5 separate regions of the Homo sapiens genome follow, and all the other regions are reported to be linked to region 3. Evidence: microRNA targets listed by miRTarBase, many of them from high-throughput screens and not tested one by one. Region 3 holds a microRNA gene; each other region holds the end of a gene's coding sequence.

What was found. Region 3 holds the annotated microRNA hsa-miR-3148 (UGGAAAAAACUGGUGUGUGCUU, at 1,218-1,239, shown strand). A microRNA usually pairs through its seed, bases 2 to 8, with sites in the 3' UTR of a target mRNA and lowers its output. Matches are read on the target gene's strand: a 7mer-m8 pairs with bases 2 to 8, a 7mer-A1 pairs with bases 2 to 7 and ends in A, and an 8mer does both.
Region 1: the mRNA of SLC25A21 is a reported target of hsa-miR-3148. Seed matches in the 3' UTR shown: 7mer-m8 at 739-745 and 7mer-m8 at 1,076-1,082.
Region 2: miRTarBase lists SCAMP1 as a target of hsa-miR-3148. Seed matches in the 3' UTR shown: 7mer-m8 at 2,371-2,377 and 7mer-m8 at 886-892.
Region 4: miRTarBase lists UNKL as a target of hsa-miR-3148. Seed matches in the 3' UTR shown: 7mer-A1 at 2,122-2,128.
Region 5: the mRNA of CYP1B1 is a reported target of hsa-miR-3148. Seed matches in the 3' UTR shown: 8mer at 640-647 and 8mer at 3,236-3,243.

Annotation. Positions count from the first base shown.
Region 1 is chr14:36,678,045-36,681,381 of GRCh38, reverse strand. SLC25A21 (solute carrier family 25 member 21) reads left to right here. Exons shown (of 10, transcript NM_030631.4): 10 at 663-3,337. The coding sequence ends at 724. It overlaps PAX9 (paired box 9), which reads right to left. Exons shown (of 4, transcript NM_001372076.1): 4 at 2,020-3,337. Among named protein-coding and RNA genes, the nearest start is that of PAX9, 18 kb to the right of the region's middle.
Region 2 is chr5:78,475,110-78,478,446 of GRCh38, reverse strand. It overlaps SCAMP1 (secretory carrier membrane protein 1), which reads right to left. Exons shown (of 9, transcript NM_004866.6): 9 at 1-2,943. The coding sequence ends at 2,779. Among named protein-coding and RNA genes, the nearest start is that of SCAMP1, 120 kb to the right of the region's middle.
Region 3 is chr8:29,955,220-29,958,556 of GRCh38, reverse strand. It overlaps MIR3148 (microRNA 3148), which reads left to right and starts at 1,209; the gene lies at 1,209-1,285.
Region 4 is chr16:1,363,503-1,366,794 of GRCh38, forward strand. UNKL (unk like zinc finger) reads right to left here. Exons shown (of 15, transcript NM_001372107.1): 15 at 1-2,893. The coding sequence ends at 2,738. It overlaps GNPTG (N-acetylglucosamine-1-phosphate transferase subunit gamma), which reads left to right. Exons shown (of 11, transcript NM_032520.5): 11 at 1-611. Among named protein-coding and RNA genes, the nearest start is that of GNPTG, 13 kb to the left of the region's middle.
Region 5 is chr2:38,067,981-38,071,293 of GRCh38, reverse strand. It overlaps CYP1B1 (cytochrome P450 family 1 subfamily B member 1), which reads left to right. Exons shown (of 3, transcript NM_000104.4): 3 at 1-3,313. The coding sequence ends at 572. Among named protein-coding and RNA genes, the nearest start is that of CYP1B1, 6.5 kb to the left of the region's middle. RefSeq lists a cis regulatory region at 298 and an enhancer at 226-370.

The DNA.
Region 1 (3,337 bases), not on the chromosome of region 3:
TCTTTTCTTCCAAGACAAATGGTGGTCTCATGCCATCCAACCCCCACTACCAAATTTTCAAGTTCAAATCCATATACAACTGAAGCAGATAAAAGGAATGAAGGTTAGCTTTCAACCTCCTTTTGTTAGGTTTTGCAATGCAGATTTTTTAAATATTCAGAATCTAATTTCCACGTAGCAATGCAGTTTGAAAGCTATGACAGAAAACTAGACTCATCCATCAAGCACCATCTTAGAGATTTTCTTCTTGAATGCAATTAAGACTGCTAATTACGGACTGAAAAAGATAAATCCTTTATCTACACATGAAGAATCTGAAGGTTTCTGTTCACAGGAAAGCCACATGCCCTTACATGACTAAATATGCCTATATTTATTTACTTTTAAAAATTGAAAGTGCTTGAAAAAGAATCTGATGACAAATGATGAAAGTTGCAAAAACTCATGGGGAAAAATGTATTTGGAGACTCAAGATGGTCTTGATTTTATCCTGAGAATTTTCCACAGTAGTTTATATCTTGGTATTGAAGCTCCAGAACTGTTGATTCCGAACAGCCTCTGCCTGACAGGCTGTGCGAGACATCATGGATTCAGAAACCCAGTGGGAAAGCCAGTGCTATTCCAGAGGATTTGCAATAAAAAACAGCTCTTTTCTTTTCTAGGTGGTGCAGTGATGCTGCTGGTTTATGAATACACCTATTCATGGCTTCAAGAGAACTGGTGATTGCCTATGAAGTGTTTTTCCCCCTTGAGATAATGGATATTTGCTATGCAGCACCATGAAGAAGAGAGACTATCGATCGGCCAGGTGTATAATTATGAAGGAGAAAACTGTTCAAGAACAAAATCTATTTTAATACTTTAAAAAATGTCTATAGGCAACTTGAGATTATAGTTTTGGCTGTATAAATAAAACTGTGAGAAGAAAAAAATAATATGAAACAATGAGGTATTTAAAGTGAATATAGAAAAATAGCATAGAAATCATATATTTATTTCATAAAATAAATAGAAACTTTGTCTCCTGTGTTCCTCTTCAATGCTTCACAATGAAAATTCATTGTATTGATCAGCATTTTTCCTAAGAGGTCTAGAAATGCTTAAACTATTGAAAATAAATCAAATTATTCAAAGACTGGATTAAAAAAAAGTTAAGCCAAAATTTAAGCAGTTTTTATAATGAATTAAATTATTCCATAAATAATATTTAAAGAGCACAAGAAAAATTTTTTAAAGTGCACTAAAATGACCTTTTAAGAATGTTTAATTTTATGAATACTATGTTAAAATGTAAATCTGTTGGTTTTTTTTAGTAACTATGCACATATCAGCTCTATTTTCCTACATCTACTTTATATCTCATATTGCTGTAAGATAATAAATAGGTATTTTAAAACATTGTTTAAAACAGAATGTTAAAACACTGTTGTTTAAGCATGTTTAAATCAAGGTATTCCAAATCTCTTCTAACACAAGTAGGAAACATGAAATAAAATTTACTTTCCTCCACATAGTTCTCTTTGAAGATAAGTTTTGTTGATGAGATATTGTCATGTTAAATCACAAATTGGAAACACCTTTGGACCCATTTGTCAGCCATCAGTATTTGCATCCAAATACCTTTATTCAGCATGCCTACCTGTGCCATTTTTAGGAAGAATGTATAGAACAGAACTGCATTTTCAGGTTATTAGTTTTAAACGACAACTTCAGGTGGGAAGTCAGCTGTCTGCAGTATTAAAATATGTATGATGAAGGGGAAATGTTCTGAAAAAGAAATACACTTAGCATTTCTAAGGATTACTATACTAACATGTATCAACAAAAATATCTCCTTGGTCTTGATGTAACCAAACTTGATTTTATATCTGCATCCAGAGATGATGCTGATTCAGTAAAGTCAACAAGAATAACTGAAAGTCCATATGACACCTGTCCTAAGTTACTACCGTGGGCTATTTCTACTACGGGGCTATTTCACTAAAGCATTTTGAAAATAAAAAGTAAAAGATAACATGGTAATTATTACTTTTTATTAATTTAGAGCATTTGAAGTATAAAAATAAAAGGCTTTTGACATACTGTATATACATACATAGCCTTCTGTTGTACATCCTTTCCAACGTGTTTTTTAAAATTTATATTTCAGTCCAATATTCAATAAAAGGGTCATTAAAAACAAAACAAAATTGTGAAAAAAAAGAAATAAGAATGTGTCTCTGTTGCACAACTGCATTCTATCCTTGCAGGTAATATTCTTACATCCAATGAGAGCGCTGCCTGCATAGAGGTCATGAAATTGAACCTTTAACCTCTCCATGTGGATCAGATAGAAAAGGATTTCTGAAGAGTGCATTTGCCAGTTTAAAAGCAACACTTTTACCATCTATGAGATAGAGGAAATATGTCAACATTAACCAATAATAATCTTTAAAAGTTAACCCTTTAATCCATCCTATTTTCCTTCTCGTATTTTAAAAAGTGGCTTTAAATCATAATTTTCTTTGAATAGCAAATTGTATCTGATATCTTTTAAAAATTACTCCATGTGAATTCACTGTTAAGACCTAGAGGGAGAAAAGGAAACTTCAATACCATTAATATTAGATTTTTTAAAATACAAGAACCAGAAAAAAATTATAAATAGCACAATAACAAGAGATTTCTTAATTTAGATAAAGAAAATAACATTATTTGCATTTCCACACAAGCAAGTAATATTTTTTAAAGCCCCCTAACAGCCACCTAAAAACATTTGATAAAGAATAGTTCTGTACCTTACATCAGTTTTTCAGATGACAGGAGAGTCCCTGTATGGTATGGTTTTAAAGAAGTCTCCACCAAAATATTGGATTGGATCTTTGTTCCATTCAGTTTATAGTCTATTTTCTCACCAGACTGGGAACTCCAGATGTCAATGGAAGTTTTACAAGATCAAAGGAAGACTATGGCCCTGAGAGTTCATCTGCTCCTTCTGCTTATTCTTCTCCTGAAGTTATAATCCTCTATTTGTAGCACTGAATTTCGGTTGCTTTAGAAATAAATGCAGTTCAAAGCTCTCTATAAGATATCTGCTGTCTGAAAAAAGCAGTCACTCTAACATAATTTGTGTGTCAGAAATCTGCTTACTGTTTACATCCTAGTGATTTGAAAACCTAACTAATCTAGCCATCTGAGTTTTAAACGAAGCCACGAAACCGATGTGGTGGAACCGCATTGCCATGTAGACTGTGCACAGCACAGACCGGAAGAAATTAAAATCACCTAGGGAATCCATCTTCAACATCCATATCCAGTGAGGTGCTCTTTTAGTTATTGCACAGAATTAGTACCAAAA
Region 2 (3,337 bases), not on the chromosome of region 3:
TGGTTAGAATTTTTAACTAGGTCTTTCATATTATTTTGTTTAGCACATGACAGACTTATACACATATTTTAAAAAATCAAACATGGAATTTCTATATACATCAAACCTTTAACAATGTCTGTCTCTGAATTGCTATTATAGTGTTCAAAATTATACAAACAAACATCCAGTAAACAGCATTTTATTTTATGACACTCTGTGTTAATACAATAAATATACAAAACTTCCAACCCACTGAAACATGCAACATTAGAGGGACACATGGAGGGCATTTCTGTAGAACCATGACAGTCACCATGATGGCAGCGCAGTATTAGTTACTGACAAAATATACAAACATCTCTAGATAAATAATCCAAGTCCCAAATTACAAATCACTGAGTAATGACTTTCCGGTGTTCAAACTTTAGTTTGAAATAAAATTGCCATAATTTAATATTACAAAATGATAAATGACACGGATGACTGCTGTGTGAAGACCATTTTATGACTATGATTTCATGACTGTGATTTTAGTACTAAATATAGAACACTTAACAAATGCCAATCTTTTGCTGAGTGAAAATTTAACAATTTACTGAGAGAAAAGTAAATATAAGAATTTAAAGTTCCTTTCATACTTGATCATACTATAAGCATTGCCATCATTTCAATGCACATATATTTTTAAAAAACAATTTTCTCTCTCAAACTCATATTAAATAACTGGATTTTAAAACATTTTCCCCATCCACACAAAAAAAGATATGTGGGTTCTAATTATTCTTTGCTATTTAATAATGCTACCTTTGAAGATTTCTACATAATATAAACATTCCAATTCTGAAGCAAAGTATTTCAGCATTTTTCAAAAGTCTCTAATATATCTTTTGTTTGTAGTGTACAGGAAAAAATGGACTTGGGATATAAGTTAATGGTGAATATAGGTGCACTTGCTGTATTTTGTGGTTAATGTTTTGAATGTATGCAAAATCCACACTCAATAAAGCACACTGATAAAATAGATTTCCAATAAGACTACAGGCTCTGAAAAACAAACTGGCTAAGTTGGTTGAGAACATAGGTAGAAATTATCGCTGATTAGAAATATTTACAAAAAATAGCTTTAAATTCATACGCTGAAGAATAAAAGAAATGTCTTCCAAGTATACCTGATGTCAATAAGATCCCAAATAAATCAAATGTAAACACCATCTGGATGGATCTGTGTTACCTAGTGACATGCAGCGCTGCTTCATGGATAGTGAAAACTTGGCATCCCACCTCTAGCATAAAACTTTTTCTGTAACTACAGGTTTGGGGAGAATGAAAGTGATTTAACTATTTATGCCTATCTGATTTTTTAAAAAATAAGGATTTCCAGCCTCTAATATCACAATCCTTACTTAAAATCTAATTGAATAATCACTATCATTCTGCAATCTTAATTTAGTTAAAGACTTTCAAAACACAGCAGCATGACTTACAGATGTCTTTGAGTCATTTATTTAATCAGTGGTAAAATTGATTCAAAGGTTGAACCCAAGAATACTATAAGAATGAAGTTCTGTGCTGCATAGTAACAATTTTAACGTGATTATCTTAATGCAGTTAACTGTATTTATATTTTCTTGCTTGGTGCAAGTTAAATGCTTTTTTTTTTATTGCTGGAAATTTTAGATATATTCAGTCTGTCTCAAAAAGTGAAAGACAGGTGCATTTAGGGATTCAAGTATGTGAAAAAATGCCAGGGTCTTTTTATGTTTAATGCCACTGGAGATGAAAAGCTAAAAGGAAAATCCCTTAAATACTGTACAATCTTTTTAGACAACAGTTAGGCTAGCCTTTAATACCTCTGTTAAAAATCACACACACACATCCCCAAAAAAGAGCTGCCAGACACAATCTTAGTTGTAACCACAGAATATACCAAAGTTTTCATATAGCAAAATGTTACTATATGACTACCGAAATTTTTTTAAAAAGGAATTATTACCACTACTTTCTACTGCATTAACTACCTTCTCTTTTGGATAATGTACTGCATATTATATAAACTTCTTATATTGCACCCCCAAACTTTTTATTTAAAAGAAATTCTTGCAGAATATCATTTCTGTGATTCCATTAACCCCTGAATCCTACAACCATAAGCAGTACAGAAGCCAAAACACTAATTCTTTTAATATAAGAAATGTGGTGCCCATGCAAATTAGAGATTGTTATCAAAATATCAGCTATTCTAAAAAAAAGAAAAGAAAAAGATGACAAATTTTACATTATCTACTACAAAATGCACATAGGCTCTTCACTGGTGACTGAAACAGCTAAAAAGCAAGCCAATTTAAAATCCCTAAGTCTCTGCTGGCCTATTTCTTTCAATATAAATAGGGAAAAAGGAATGAAACATGGTTTACTTTTCCAATGTGCAATCCTTATCTCTAAAGATTCTTGAAAGAACTACTGCAGTTAGTATTAAATGCGTTTTTAATCATAAGTACCATTATTAATTTTCAGTGGGTCACCACTGAAATAATTCACTGAATGTCATCCCCCAAAAATATGGAGAATATTTATTTAGCATGTAATATTTTTTCTGCAAGGGGCACTGAAATATTAAGAAACTATTAGGTAAAGTAATAAGACAAGGAAGTTTTCCTGGTTTTAGCCCATGCACAAGTGAACAGGAAATATCCATGCTGTCTGTACTGTGTGTTTTGAACATAAAAATATTTGTAGAATACAGTAACTGGAGAAAAAGGTACAGTCAAAAGGTAACAGTGTATTGTTTGAAGATTCTTAAATCTGGTTACCCTTGAAAGCATTCTGAGCTGCACTAGATGCTGCAGTTGAAGCTGCATTTGCAGCTGCGGTCTGGACAGTTTTGTTGGACATCACACCTGTTGCAAACTCCTGTTGGGCCTTCTCAAAACTAGCACCTGTTGTGCGATATAGTCCATGTACCTACAGAGGCACAAAAAAGTGGGAGAAGGTAAGTAGCAACCTACGCATTCATTTCCAGCAGCTCTTAATCTCAACATTAATCAAACATAAAAATACTAGATTGTAGTCATGATTCCTAAGATCAAGAATATTAGCCACCAAACTGACACACAATAATTGTATTTAAACATTTTCTTAATATAGGTTTTCCTTTTCTTCTCCAAGCAGAAGAGATAATTATGCTAATTTAAACCAAAAATAAAGAACTTCTTAGCCAACTTCAAAAAGTTGTATTTTCCTCTGCACCCAATTAGTCAAGTGAAATTATTACAGCATTACAATGAAATGGTTTAAACATAATAACAAGAAACAATACATTAATTTATTACCCCAGACTATTCAGAGAGAACAGTAC
Region 3 (3,337 bases):
GCGTGGATAAAGACAGAAGTCAGTTTTTTGTAACCTAATACCAGAAGTGACATCCCATTACTCTTGCTGGACTCAGTTCTTTAGAAGTGAGTCATTAGGTCAAGCTCACATACAAGAGGAGGGAGTTACACAAAGGAGTGGACACCAGGAGGGAGGGGTCATGAGGGCCCTGCCAGCAGCTTCCAACCACATGCAATTATCTTCTTCATCAGCTCACCCAATGTATTCATTACTGGCAGTTCTGGGATATAAATCCAGGTTTCTAGGCCCTTGCTCTTTCCCCAAGAGTCTACCCTGGGAGGAATACTGATTGTCAATTGTAGTTGAAATTGTAAGCTGATTATGTAGCCATTTCTACCTACATTTTCTACATTTTTTTCCCTTGGCTTTGTTTTTGGGGCAAGTGCAATTTAGTTGTGAACATATTGCAATGAGGGGACTTTCCTCACATTTACTTATCCTTTATCCCCTCTCTCTCATTCTCTCAAGTAGTGTTTCAACCTCTTCAAGGCTTCAAATCTTTAACATTCTCACTCTCAGCAAATAGCTTTGTTTCCAGCTGCATAGAGAAAGTAGACAATATCAGCTGTGAACACTTTCAACTCCTGTCTCCCATGCACATGCTTCTCTCCTACTTTTTGGTTTGAGAGGATGGGAAGTCATTTCTTCTGTTTGCTCCTTCTTTGTAAAATTTCCTTTCCTTTCCTTCATATCTTAATTAATCAATTATTCACAATGTTGAGTCCACTGAGGACCAGTAAGCAGCCTTCTGTCTTTTCCACCTCAGTGCTGCACAATTCAGGAAGTGAATCAAAGAATAAAGACAGAGGCCACAGCAATATTATGGATAGAGCTGAGTTGGAGGATGTGGCTTGGTGTCTCTGTCAAATGGACCTGAGATCTGAACCCCAGGACTGGTCAGTTCTCAGCAGTGCTGTATGGTAGCCTTTACAGGTCAAAATTACATCATGGAGGAGCAGAGGCAAATTTGTGCCTTCTGTGGGCAGGTTCACTTCTGATAGGGCAAAGGGAAGACTTGAGCCAAGATTGCCATTTTCTTCCTAAATTTGCCAATCAAATAAGATAGAGTAAGCAATGTTAATTGAAGTCTTCCCACAGGAAGGCAATGTGTGGAATGGAGAAGGCTGCTTCAGCAACATCCTCTCCCATGCACCTTAAACGTCTCTTTCTTTCTCAGCTCCTTTCTGGAGTTAAGATGGAAAAAACTGGTGTGTGCTTATTGATGTAGCCAACAAGCATACATCAGTTTTTTCCAACTTAACTCCAGTATTTTCCCCAATTCATCCTGAAATTGCTGCCCTATCCATTCTCCCTCCTACACAGCCAAGATTCTTAAAAAACCAATCCAAATTTGCAGAATCTCCTCACTCATTTCTAACACATTTCTCAAGGGTTTTGACTTCAAAACTCAAGTAGAGTTTTGACTTCTACTCTCACCAGTGCATAGCAGTTGCCTTGGCAGGGGCCCCCAGTGACTTCCTGCTCATCAAAGCCAATGGACCTCTGGTGGTTTTAAGTTGAACTAACTTCTCTTTAATATTTAACCCTCCTGTACACTTCATTCCTCCAGAAAGGATCACTTATTTCCAGGCTTCATCGTTGATTCCTCTTGCCATGTTCACTATCAATGCTTTCCAGGACTCCTCTCAAATTTGATTAGTTTTATTCTGTTTACTCTTGGGTGAATTTTTTTTTCTTTGAGCTTTAACTGTCACCTCTTGCTAGTCACTCCTGAATATTCAGCTGGAGTCCAGACCTTTGTCTTGAATTCTAGATCCACATGGTACATTGCACAATCTGGCAATGCCAACCTTTCCACTCTCATATTTTCTACCTGTCTCCCCTTTACACACCCTGACCTAGCTATACTTTCCTGCATTATTCTTTGATCATTCTAAGCTTATTCTTACCCCAGGGACTTTGCACTTACTGTTACTTCTGCCTGGAATGCTCTTCCCCTAGAGGTGTACAAAGCTCATTTCTTTCATGTCTCTGCTTAAGTATCACAGCTTCAGAGAGTTCTTCACTCACCACTCCCACCTCTGTTTACATTTTATCGTAGAATTTATCACTATTCAAGTGTGTGCGTGAAGTGGGTGTGGTGTGTGAGCACACATATATGTGCTGATCCTAAAATAATTAAGTTCCTCAAGGGCAAGAACTTTGAATTATTCACTGGCATATCCCTAGTACCTATAATATGGATGCTAATGACACTTGTTTAATGGGTAAATGTTTGCTTGAAATTTGTCTTTATGACTCATCGTCTCTCACTAACTCCTACAAAGTGGTTTGTTACTAACATCCCTGTTTATGAATTTAATCTCAAATTTCTCTATTTAGTTTTCTCCTAAGTAACAATTTCAACAATTGAGGCTGGAATTTTATTTTCTTATAAGATTAGCTCAGAAAGCTAAATAAAACGCTTTGGGTTTTCTCATCAGAAAAAAGAAAGCTCAGGTGCACCGAGACTGGCCCCACAGTGTTTGCAATCGCTGTCATGATTGGGTTTCTGCAAGCTGGCCCCATGGGACAACTTCATCTTTCCTTTTCTGCCTGACGTCTTGCAATTGGGATTCCCGCTAGTACTGCCCTAAATCCTGGCAAGAAGACCTCTTGCTTTGAGCCCTATGCTTTAGAGAGCTCCACTCTCATCCTTCTTTGTTCCTTTCCCTCCCCATTAAGCAAGAAGTCCTTGGGATAAGAGAATAAAACCATCTGGACCCCATATATCTTCCTTCTGGAACACATTCCTGATACATGAGACCTCAGAATTCTCTGCCCAAATGGTCACAATTAAACTTCCAAGGCTTGTGGCCCTCTTTCTGAGGTCTTTCCTCTCTAGAGTGAAGTATGCTGACTGTGTGTGCCCACTTGAGCCAAGTGATGGTCAAATCATTACTGTTTCAAGGACCACGGGTGAAGCTTTAACTTACGTTCTTGGTTGTACACTGGACTGCTTGTGGTAGGAACTGGAGGTGGGAAGAGACCATTTTTCAGTAGATTTCTGGAAGTCTAAGGATTCTGAATTTGGGTATATTTGTGGAAGTAGCAATGTTTTAACTAGTGATGCTAGCTTGATATATAACTCATACATTGGATGTATAATCTATGTGGGCCTCCATTTGTACTCTTGGCCAAGGCAATGCTGATATTAGGGGTGAGCCTGGTTCCACAACTGTCTTCATAGAACTGCTGCCTTAGACTTATGTCTGTGTGGATGCACTGATTCTAGATGAGGTGTTTGCACTTTTTTTTTTTTTTAAAAAGACCTGAGTTTTTACATAACCAAAATCTTACCTGGAAACCCAGCATA
Region 4 (3,292 bases), not on the chromosome of region 3:
CACGGCGAATGTCGAACACTAGAGTTACAGACGACAGGCAACAAGAACATGCAGAGCCGGCCGCCAGCCAGCTCCTACGCCCCGTGCCCGCCATGGCCACAGGGGGGAGCTGCTGGGCGCGCCTCCACCTCAGCCTCCACGGGGCACCTTCCAGCCACTGCTGTGCCTCAGCCACCTAGGAGCCATCCCTGAGGCCATGGCCACCAAGACAGGTGAGGGAGGCCCCAGGGCACACAGCCCCAGGATCTTGCCCCCATTTCCAACCCTGGCAGCGCTGCCAGCCATTCTTTGGTCTTCCCACTGCTCACCTGTCCTCAGAGCCAGTACTGATCTAGGGGAGCAGGTGCCACCTCCATCTCCCAGCTGTCCCCCCACCCCTGGGGCTCCCCAGCTCTACCACCCCGGAAGCTGAGCCCTGGAGACACCCTGAGGGGCGGGCGCCACCTCCTTCCCAGAAAGAGCAGAGCAGCTGGCAGACTAGAGCTCAGCTGCTCCTGACCACTGACAACCGGGAGATGTCTCGGCAGACACCACTTATCCCAGAAAAGACCAGAGGCTCCAAATGGGAACCAAGTGCATAAATACAAATAAAAACAGAGTTTACACATCGATGACAGTAGCACAAAATATACGTAATTTCTAGATACTGAGCTAATAAATCACTGTAGTTAAAAACAAAATAGATTCACTGAAACCAAGTCGATAGTTACCTTGGAGTAGTGGACTAGCTGCAGAATGTCACGGACCCACTTCCTTTAAAACAACAGAATGTTGCTATCAGTTTGTCTTACGTTAAAACAGTTCTTAAACCACCTACTATATTAAATACATTCTAATTTGGTCACTGATGATAAAGATTTTTACCTAGACGTTTTGCACTTAAAAAATGCTATTAAAAGTCTTTGGCAAAGCCACGGTCGGGGAGAAACACGTCGGTGCCGCTTCCCACTCGTGTGCCCTCACCACCCACGTGGCCCGCGGAGAGCCAGGTCGCCGTAAACCACAGATGCCTGTTCCTGCTCAACTCCTAGGGACAGTCCCAGCCCTGAGCAGAAGGGTCAGGTCATCGCGGGGATGCGTTCTCAGTCACGTTTCTGCTGCGGCCGAAACCACACTGTCGCTCCAGGGGCAGACGGGACAGGGGACCACAGCAGAGCCGGGACCTGGGGGGGGTCGCTTCCCCCGTGTGCTCCAGGCCACTGAGAGGCTGTGGCCGGGTCCTCTCCTGTGACCTCACTGGCCACATGGATGAGCTCCGATGATAACTGGCAGCGCGGGTCAGGTGACTGCCACATACACCCGGCACCCCGGACCCTGGCGCACACACGGCCCGAGCATCTCCCACACGAGCAGGACCAGGGTGGTCACGGGTGCTGGGGAGGCAACCACTCTCCCAGTTCACTGCCTGACCCCTGCCAGGACGCCCAGCGACATCTCCAAGGAGCTACAAAGCACCATTGCCTAGGACAGCTCTGAGTAATCAGAAAACAGCTTTTTTTTTTTTTTTTTGAGCCAGAGTCTCGCTCTGTCACCCGGGCTGGAGTGCGGTGGCGCGATCTCGGCTCACTGCAACCTCTGCCTCCCAGGTTCAAGCGATTCTCCTGCCTCAGCCTCCCGAGTAGCTGGGACTACAGGTGCCCGCTCTCACGCCAGGCCAATTTTTGTATTTTTACTAAGACGGGGTTGCACCATGTTGGCCAGGCTGGTCTTGAACTCCTGACCTTAGGTGATCCACCCGCCTCCCAAAGTGCTGGGATCACAGGCATGAGCCACCGCACCCAGCCAGAAGACAGCTGCTTAAAAAAGTAATTCTAAAAGCTCTGACGTCGGATCCCCTCTGCTGCGTTTTTTGTTAGTATCAAACTGTCTTTCAGAGGGTTAAGGGAGAAAACAAAACCCATGATGCTCCTTCACTTGCTCTCCGAGGCGCAGGCGCACAGAAACAGCGGCCACGGACCACAGAAATGCAGGACGGAGCTCTCCTGCTCCCACGCCACGAGGCTGGAACATCAGCCCCAGTGCCTGGTGCACACACAGGCTCAGGAAAACTAGCTCCTTCCATCAAGTTAAAAACATCTCAATCCATAATCACTCTGCTTATAAATACTATTTGCACTTAATTGGAAAATGTAAAAATCCTAGGTCTTACTACTAGATAAACACTCATTTCATAAGTACTAGTTTCAGAATATGAAATCTAATATATTTAGCATACTATGAATTGACAATAAACTGATATGAAATATTTAAGTTCACAGTACACATATAAAGCTTCATATTATCGCATATTAAAAAAAAACAGAAAGCAGCTTAGAGCAATTTATAACCTCTAACTAAATTCCTCGGTTTACAAAGTGCTTTGAAAGACCCCAGCTCCCAGTGGCCTAGTCACAGTAGTGTCAGGACCACAAACTGCTGTGATCACAGCGCCGCGTGGATCCCGGAGGCACCAGGCCCCTCAGGGACAGGCAGGCGGGTTCTGTGGGTTTGCATTTAAGGTTTTTGAGGAAAATACCTTGAAACCGTCGGTAGGACTAGATAGGTGACAACGTGTGACAGGAAAGGCTGTCAGGCCAAGCGCAGGCGGGGCTCCCAGCCTCATGATAACGTGTAACAGGAAGGGCTCCCAGCCTCGGTCCTCACGTCGGTGGCACCAGAAGCGAGTGACGACATGTCCGTGGTCAGGAGGAGCGCTGGAGCCAGGGTGCCCAGCAGGAGGTGGCTGTCCCCGCTGAGGTCACCACTGCAGGGGCTGGCCCTTGCAGTAGGGGCACTCAGGTGCGGTGGCCGCACACGGCTCACAGAGGATGTGGTGCTGACAGGGCCGCAGGACAGCACCGTGGGCCCGCTCCCGGCAGGCCACACACTGCTTGGCGCGGAGCTGGAAGATCACCTGCAGGGCCAGAACAATGACGGGCTCAGGAGGCCCCTGCCCAGGCTGGGCCAGCTGGGGAGCCGGAGGGCCTTCCGGGCAGGACTCAGCATCTCAGGCCGCCCGGCCACCAGCTACAGAGACAGGGTCAGGGAGACGCCCCAGCCAGGGCCACCTCAGGGAGAAGGCAGCTGCGGGGTCAGGGGGTATGCTCTGTCTTAAGAGCCCTGGGCAGAGGACAGCCTCCTGGGGCCACCACAGACACGGCAGTGGCCAGACAGGCCAGGCCCCTGAGGGCAGCTGGGTGCCCAGGATGTGGGCTACGCAGGACCCTCTGTCCTATAGCAGCGAGTCCAAGAGCCCACCCTTAGCAGGCGAGGTGAGGAGGGGCACGCCGAAGTGGAGGGGTCATGTGTGAGG
Region 5 (3,313 bases), not on the chromosome of region 3:
CTCGAGTGCAGGCAGAATTGGATCAGGTCGTGGGGAGGGACCGTCTGCCTTGTATGGGTGACCAGCCCAACCTGCCCTATGTCCTGGCCTTCCTTTATGAAGCCATGCGCTTCTCCAGCTTTGTGCCTGTCACTATTCCTCATGCCACCACTGCCAACACCTCTGTCTTGGGCTACCACATTCCCAAGGACACTGTGGTTTTTGTCAACCAGTGGTCTGTGAATCATGACCCACTGAAGTGGCCTAACCCGGAGAACTTTGATCCAGCTCGATTCTTGGACAAGGATGGCCTCATCAACAAGGACCTGACCAGCAGAGTGATGATTTTTTCAGTGGGCAAAAGGCGGTGCATTGGCGAAGAACTTTCTAAGATGCAGCTTTTTCTCTTCATCTCCATCCTGGCTCACCAGTGCGATTTCAGGGCCAACCCAAATGAGCCTGCGAAAATGAATTTCAGTTATGGTCTAACCATTAAACCCAAGTCATTTAAAGTCAATGTCACTCTCAGAGAGTCCATGGAGCTCCTTGATAGTGCTGTCCAAAATTTACAAGCCAAGGAAACTTGCCAATAAGAAGCAAGAGGCAAGCTGAAATTTTAGAAATATTCACATCTTCGGAGATGAGGAGTAAAATTCAGTTTTTTTCCAGTTCCTCTTTTGTGCTGCTTCTCAATTAGCGTTTAAGGTGAGCATAAATCAACTGTCCATCAGGTGAGGTGTGCTCCATACCCAGCGGTTCTTCATGAGTAGTGGGCTATGCAGGAGCTTCTGGGAGATTTTTTTGAGTCAAAGACTTAAAGGGCCCAATGAATTATTATATACATACTGCATCTTGGTTATTTCTGAAGGTAGCATTCTTTGGAGTTAAAATGCACATATAGACACATACACCCAAACACTTACACCAAACTACTGAATGAAGCAGTATTTTGGTAACCAGGCCATTTTTGGTGGGAATCCAAGATTGGTCTCCCATATGCAGAAATAGACAAAAAGTATATTAAACAAAGTTTCAGAGTATATTGTTGAAGAGACAGAGACAAGTAATTTCAGTGTAAAGTGTGTGATTGAAGGTGATAAGGGAAAAGATAAAGACCAGAAATTCCCTTTTCACCTTTTCAGGAAAATAACTTAGACTCTAGTATTTATGGGTGGATTTATCCTTTTGCCTTCTGGTATACTTCCTTACTTTTAAGGATAAATCATAAAGTCAGTTGCTCAAAAAGAAATCAATAGTTGAATTAGTGAGTATAGTGGGGTTCCATGAGTTATCATGAATTTTAAAGTATGCATTATTAAATTGTAAAACTCCAAGGTGATGTTGTACCTCTTTTGCTTGCCAAAGTACAGAATTTGAATTATCAGCAAAGAAAAAAAAAAAAGCCAGCCAAGCTTTAAATTATGTGACCATAATGTACTGATTTCAGTAAGTCTCATAGGTTAAAAAAAAAAGTCACCAAATAGTGTGAAATATATTACTTAACTGTCCGTAAGCAGTATATTAGTATTATCTTGTTCAGGAAAAGGTTGAATAATATATGCCTTGTATAATATTGAAAATTGAAAAGTACAACTAACGCAACCAAGTGTGCTAAAAATGAGCTTGATTAAATCAACCACCTATTTTTGACATGGAAATGAAGCAGGGTTTCTTTTCTTCACTCAAATTTTGGCGAATCTCAAAATTAGATCCTAAGATGTGTTCTTATTTTTATAACATCTTTATTGAAATTCTATTTATAATACAGAATCTTGTTTTGAAAATAACCTAATTAATATATTAAAATTCCAAATTCATGGCATGCTTAAATTTTAACTAAATTTTAAAGCCATTCTGATTATTGAGTTCCAGTTGAAGTTAGTGGAAATCTGAACATTCTCCTGTGGAAGGCAGAGAAATCTAAGCTGTGTCTGCCCAATGAATAATGGAAAATGCCATGAATTACCTGGATGTTCTTTTTACGAGGTGACAAGAGTTGGGGACAGAACTCCCATTACAACTGACCAAGTTTCTCTTCTAGATGATTTTTTGAAAGTTAACATTAATGCCTGCTTTTTGGAAAGTCAGAATCAGAAGATAGTCTTGGAAGCTGTTTGGAAAAGACAGTGGAGATGAGGTCAGTTGTGTTTTTTAAGATGGCAATTACTTTGGTAGCTGGGAAAGCATAAAGCTCAAATGAAATGTATGCATTCACATTTAGAAAAGTGAATTGAAGTTTCAAGTTTTAAAGTTCATTGCAATTAAACTTCCAAAGAAAGTTCTACAGTGTCCTAAGTGCTAAGTGCTTATTACATTTTATTAAGCTTTTTGGAATCTTTGTACCAAAATTTTAAAAAAGGGAGTTTTTGATAGTTGTGTGTATGTGTGTGTGGGGTGGGGGGATGGTAAGAGAAAAGAGAGAAACACTGAAAAGAAGGAAAGATGGTTAAACATTTTCCCACTCATTCTGAATTAATTAATTTGGAGCACAAAATTCAAAGCATGGACATTTAGAAGAAAGATGTTTGGCGTAGCAGAGTTAAATCTCAAATAGGCTATTAAAAAAGTCTACAACATAGCAGATCTGTTTTGTGGTTTGGAATATTAAAAAACTTCATGTAATTTTATTTTAAAATTTCATAGCTGTACTTCTTGAATATAAAAAATCATGCCAGTATTTTTAAAGGCATTAGAGTCAACTACACAAAGCAGGCTTGCCCAGTACATTTAAATTTTTTGGCACTTGCCATTCCAAAATATTATGCCCCACCAAGGCTGAGACAGTGAATTTGGGCTGCTGTAGCCTATTTTTTTAGATTGAGAAATGTGTAGCTGCAAAAATAATCATGAACCAATCTGGATGCCTCATTATGTCAACCAGGTCCAGATGTGCTATAATCTGTTTTTACGTATGTAGGCCCAGTCGTCATCAGATGCTTGCGGCAAAAGGAAAGCTGTGTTTATATGGAAGAAAGTAAGGTGCTTGGAGTTTACCTGGCTTATTTAATATGCTTATAACCTAGTTAAAGAAAGGAAAAGAAAACAAAAAACGAATGAAAATAACTGAATTTGGAGGCTGGAGTAATCAGATTACTGCTTTAATCAGAAACCCTCATTGTGTTTCTACCGGAGAGAGAATGTATTTGCTGACAACCATTAAAGTCAGAAGTTTTACTCCAGGTTATTGCAATAAAGTATAATGTTTATTAAATGCTTCATTTGTATGTCAAAGCTTTGACTCTATAAGCAAATTGCTTTTTTCCAAAACAAAAAGATGTCTCAGGTTTGTTTTGTGAATTTTCTAAAAGCTTTCATGTCCCAGAACTTAGCCTTT